2 separate regions of the Homo sapiens genome follow, and region 1 is linked to region 2. The links come from fine-mapping of genetic effects on plasma protein levels. Region 2 holds a variant in brackets. A gene starts in the other region. All regions are shown on their reverse strands.

Region 1 (2,913 bases), not on the chromosome of region 2:
GTGAGCCACCGCACCTGGCCTGATAAATACTTCTTAAATCTCTGTCTCCAGCCCTGACCAGTAACTAATCAGACACACCCACCTGGACACTCCTCCTTCCGGCCCATCTTTCTGTGGCACCCCTCAGCTCTCTCTGCCTTGCAGCCTGGCCAGCTCTGTGCAGTTCTGTCCCCCACACTAACCTGTGAGCTGCTGGGAAGCAGAAGTCTGTCCTGCTATGGTTCACTCAGCCCCAGGTACCAGAAGGGCAAAACCGAGTTCCCTCTCACACCAGCCTCCTTTTTTTCTGTTCAAGCCAGCATTGTTTCCCATCTCCCCATCTGCCCCCAAGTCTGAAACTTTGCCCTTGACTCATTCCTCGCCTCCATCCCCCACATTACATCAGGCAGAGACTCTGCCCAGCGCTGTCTTCAGTGGGAGCTTGGCTTCCTTGCTTCCTTCTCATCTCCACTGGCTCAGCCCTCATCCTTCACACCCAGAGAGTCTCAAAAACTTCTGGGCCTATTTCTTCCTCTCTGGTCTCTCCTGACACCTCCCTCATCAGCTGCATGCCCACATGTGGTGGATCTTTCACAAGGGCTGCCCTGACCATGTAATGCCCCCTTCCTCCAAAACCGTCAATGGCTCCCTGCTTCCTTCCCCATCCAGTCAAAACTTTTCAGGCCAATCTTGAAGCTGTACCTTCCATCTAGCCCCTCCTTCCTATTCAGTCTCATCTCCCTGCTCCCCAACATTGAGCTTTCTTGAGGGCCAGTGCGTCCCCTCACTTTGTGACTTGGTTTGCTGCTTCCAAACTCCTGTCCCCTTCTTGTATGGATTATCTTCCCTTGATCCAAAGTCCATCCACCGCTCATCTAACACATGCCCTGAAAGATCCAGCGAGGGGGTCACCTCACAGTGGAGGGGTTAGGAGCAAAGACTCTAGGTCAGGTCACCTGGTTTTGAATTCAGCTCTCCCATCAGCAGGCGGTGACACTGTGAGCTCAAAGTCACTTCTCTCTGAGCCTCAGTTTCTACAGCTGCAAAATGAAAATAATAACAATAATTACATTAGAAGGCTTTGGTTTGCATCAACTGCCTTACTGCTTATATCTGGCAAATAGTACACGTTTCTGACTTTAAATATCATCTATATGCCAACCACTCCCAAGTTTCTCTCGCAAACTCCAGCCTCCTTCTACGTCCAGCTGCCTACTCGCCATACCAAATAGGCAGCTCCAACCCCCCAAGTCTGAAGCTGAATTTCTGATTCCCACCCACCCCTACACCTGCTCTCTCCTCCTTCTCTGCCAGCCCCTTCCTTCCGGTTACTAGGGCCAGAAACCTGGGCGCTATCCCTGACGCCTCTTCCTCTCGCCCCCAACTTCCCATCTGTTGGGTGAGCTCATGTCTCTGCTTTCCAAATACACCCAGAAACCAGCATCAATCCCTGGCTTCCTACAACTGCCTTCTGGGTGCTCTCCCTGTCTCCATCCTTGCCCCCTACAGTGTATTCTCAGCACAGCAGCAGAGGGACCATGAATCTCCCGTGTTCAGAACGTCCCCGTGGCTCTCCACCTCACGCAGAGGACAAGTCCAAGACCCTCCAGCAGCCACGAGGCCCCGCGAGTTCTGTGCCCTGCTCTCTGCCCACCTGTATCTCCTGGTTCCCTGGTTCACTCTGCCCCAGCCACCCTGGCCTCCTCCCTATGCCTCAAACCAACCAGACAGACATGCTCCTTCCTGAGGAGGTTTGCACGGACTGTTCTTTCAGCCTGGAATGTTGTCCCCAGATACCTGCAGGACTCACTCCTTCACCTTTTTCAAACTTTTTTAGGCCGGGCGTGGTGGCTCACGCCTGTAATCCCAGCACTTTGGGAGGCCGAGGCAGGTGGATCACTTGAAGTCAGGGGTTCGAGACCAGCCTGGCCAACATGGTGAAATCCCATCTCTACTAAAAATACAAAAATCAGCTGAGCGTGGTGGCAGGTGCCTGTAGTCCCAGGTACTTGGGAGGCTGAGGCAGGAGAATCACTTGAACCCAGGAGGCAGAGGTTGCAGTGAGCCAAGATCACACCACTACACTCCAGCCTGGGCAACAGAGCAAGACTCTATCTCAAAAAATATATATATATATATATTATATATATTTATAATATATATAATATATATTATAAATATATATTATATATATTATAAATATATATTATATATATTATAAATATATATTATATATATATAAAATATATATTTATAATATATATAACATATATATAATATAATATATATATTATAATATATATATTATTATATAATATATATAATATAATATATATTATAATATAATATATATATTATAATATATATTATAATATAATATATATATTATAATATATATATTATATATAATATATGTTATATATATTATAATATATATATTATATATATTATAGATAATAATATATATTATATATATTATAGATAATAATATATATTATATATATTATAGATAATAATATATATTATATATATTATAGATAATAATATATATTATATATATTATAGATAATAATATATATTATATATATTATAGATAATAATATATATTATATATATTATAGATAATAATATATATTATATATATTATAGATAATAATATATATTATATATATTATAAATATATATATGTATTTGTTTAGATTACATCTTTCAGTGAAGTCAAATTGCATGCCATCCCCATCTCTTCCTCTGCTCTTTTTTTTTTTTTTTTTTGCTGAAATGCTTATATCCTCTGACATGCTAGGCCATTCGCTTACTTATGTCTGCTGTTTACTATCTGTCTCCCACCTGTACCCCCACCCCCATCCTACTGGGATGTAAGTTGCATGGGACAGAGGTTTCTGTTTCTTTTCTTTAATGGAATATATCTCGGCA
Region 2 (2,924 bases):
TAAGAAATTGTTTTCACTTAGGAAAATGTTTCTCAGTGGAGCTAGAGTGAATAATCTTTCTTCATACTGGAACTGAGTTAGAATGTCTTTGTATACAAATATAGCATATTTTGGCCAGCAATATAATTGCCTGTTAAAGAGTTTATTTGCCTTCACACGCAGGATTGCTACATACATTCACAGTTTTAATAGACTGTAATTAGCTATTCCAGTTGTGCTTTAAAATCCCGAATATTATTCTCATTAGTGAGTGCAAAGCAAATGTCCCATCTGACTACAATTGGTCCTAGAGTTATAAACTCCATAATGGTTTATTGTAAGTTTCCTCATTCTCCAGTTTCATCGTTTGCTTTTTCGGGTATGACTTCCAAGCTCCGGCGTGGCTTCTGGACATCAGCATTTTCGGTGCCTGGTTTATTCAGTCCACATGAAACAGCAGCAAAATGGATTTGTTTCAGGTTCTCCAATGTCTCATTCTTAGCATATTTCAAAAGATCTGCTTGTCCCTATAACAAAACATGCAATTAAACAGTATTAGATATGACATAACTTAGTGTTATACTTCAACAATATCTATCTTTCACTGAAATAGAAGTATTCTGATTCCACAAGAAGGCATAATTATTTCTTATTGGCACTGCATCTGAATAGGTCAATTTTAATAAAAAGTGAGTTTGTTTTCCCAGTTTCAACACCACACTCCAAGAGTATGCTGCCTTTCTGGCCCTTTCTATTTATAGATCTGCATGGGGTTCTGTGTGCATGAACTATTCCTGTCTATCCTGGTTAAAATTACATCTTTCATTAGTTGTTTGGCCAATCTTGTTTTTTCCCTTTTAAGGTTTGATTAAAAAAAAAACTTTTTATTTTGAAATAAGTATAAACTCACAGAAGGATACAAATATAGTACAGAGAGGTCTTGTATACCCTTTCCCAAATTTCCCCCAATGGTTATGTCTCACATAACTATAGCACAATATCAAAACCAAGACACTGATGGGGGTACAAAGTGTGCCTATGCTTCTGTGTGACTTCATCACATGTGTGGGTTCACGTAACCACCGTGGCAACCAAGGCACAGCACTGCACCAGCACCACCAGGAAGTCACACCCACCCCTCCTCTCCACCATCCCTAAACCCTGGCAACCACTAATCTGTTCTCCATCTCTGAAGCCCACACAGCCTTTGGTAAGTGCTGGCAGCCGTGGGCACGCAGCAGGTCCTCACTGAGCATTTGCTGAAAGAAAGAGTGAAGCAAAGGATTTTCTACTTTGGATATACTTTCTCAGCCAAATTTTAATTTCTTTTCTGAGGTCTGACCATCAACTTGATCTATATGCAGTATAACATGATATAGGTCAGAAAACAGTGGGCGAATTGAAGCACAGTCACTGGGAGTCTGGAATCGGTGCTGACAATGGGCCAATGAAGTTTGTCACCCTCTTTGCTCTTGACATTTTGGACCAGAGAATTCT[T/C]TGGAGGTGGGGAGCTGTCTTGTGTATTTTCAGATATTTAGCAGCACCCCTAGCATACCCTAATGTTTGCAGACATTGCTAACTGTCTCTTGAGTGGGAGGGTGAGCTACCCCCAGTTGAAAACCACTGGGCTAATGCATCAGCCAACAATTCCAAAATTATCGAGCAGAAGAGATGATGTGGTGCTCTATTGCTGTAAATTCCAACACTCCTACTTTGCTTTTTTGTTCTATTTTTCCTTCCAAATTTAACCTGCCTTCCACTAACAGTTTTTTCTACTTACACTATTACCTTTTCTTCTTTCTCACTCTCCTTGCTTGCTATTTTTTCCCATCCCCTTGGGTTCTCAATTTATTCTATTATTTTCTTTATGATTCCTCTGTAGTTTGACTTTTCTTTGTCCTACTTACACCTCCTCCGCCTTTCCCTCTTTCTGAACTGCCTCCCAGTGTGGGTCCCCTTTAAGGCATTCCTGTCCAGCAGGAGCTTGGGGCCAGCTGCAGAGAGCAATGGGTAGGGACTTACCTTGGCTGGCAAATGGACTATAGTCAAATGTCAGCCACTGGTGAGATCAAATTGCAAGGCAATTTTAAACCGTCATGAGGCCCAAATCCACAGAACAGTTTGCTGCCTACCACTTACCATGCATGGTTTTCCTGCTTTACAGAGTCCTTTAATTAGTAACTATAAATAGATGTTCCCTTGCGTAGATTAACTAAAGGAGCTTCATTTTTATTCATTCTTACTAGTCACTGAACTCACATGTTGAAAATTTACTAGTTATGAGGTCTTTGTATATATAGCATATTGTGTCAGGAGTATAATTTCATGTTAAATAGTGTATTTCCCTTCACAAGCAGAATTGCTACACACATTCACAGTTTTAATAGACTAACTAGTCTTTGTGTTTTAAAACTCCAAATATTATTTTTTAAAATTAATAAACTTTAATTTTTAGGACAGTTTTAGGTTCACAGCAAAACAGAGCAGAAACCACAGAGAGTTCCCTTACGCTCCCTCCCTACGCAAACCTTCTCTAGTAGCCACATCCCGCACCACAGTGGTATACTTGTTACAATCAATGAACCTATGTTGCCACATCCCCTCAAGTCTATTGCCTAAATTAGGGCTCACCCTTGGTTTTGTGTATTCCATGGGTTTTGAAAAATGTATAACAACATCTATCTACCCTTACACGATCATGCAGAATAGTTCCACCACCCTAAAATTCCTCTGTGCTTTGCTAGTCATCCTTCCCCACTCCCAACCCCTGGCAACCATTGATCTTTTTATTGTCTCCACAGTTCTGCCTTTTCAACAATGTCGTCTAGTTGGAAACACAGTGTGTAGCCTTTTTGGATTGGCTTCTTTCGCTTAGTAATATGCATTTAAATTTCCTCCATGTCGTCTCATGGCTTGATAGCTCATATCTTTTTAGTGCTGAATAA

Which allele goes with the higher level. Alleles are on the strand shown, and positions count from the first base shown. The strength of an association depends on the size of the effect and on how common the allele is.
As copies of C replace T in region 2, the plasma level of the protein whose gene starts at base 1,005 in region 1 goes down (moderate association).

Evidence for each region. PIP is the chance, under the fine-mapping model, that this variant and not a neighbour inherited with it causes the effect. Protein levels are from antibody-based Olink assays in UK Biobank. Linkage for the fine-mapping came from a reference panel and not from the study's own genotypes, which makes the PIPs less certain.
Region 1: CCL17 starts here. The variant in region 2 is fine-mapped to the plasma level of the CCL17 protein (UK Biobank, PIP above 0.99).

What each region holds. Positions count from the first base shown.
Region 1 is chr16:57,402,859-57,405,771 of GRCh38, reverse strand. It overlaps CCL17 (C-C motif chemokine ligand 17), which reads right to left and starts at 1,005. Exons shown (of 4, transcript NM_002987.3): 1 at 936-1,005.
Region 2 is chr3:17,087,315-17,090,238 of GRCh38, reverse strand. PLCL2 (phospholipase C like 2) reads right to left here. Exons shown (of 6, transcript NM_001144382.2): 6 at 1-506. The coding sequence ends at 327. Among named protein-coding and RNA genes, the nearest start is that of PLCL2-AS1, 34 kb to the right of the region's middle. The variant T/C (reference allele first, on the strand shown) is at 1,477.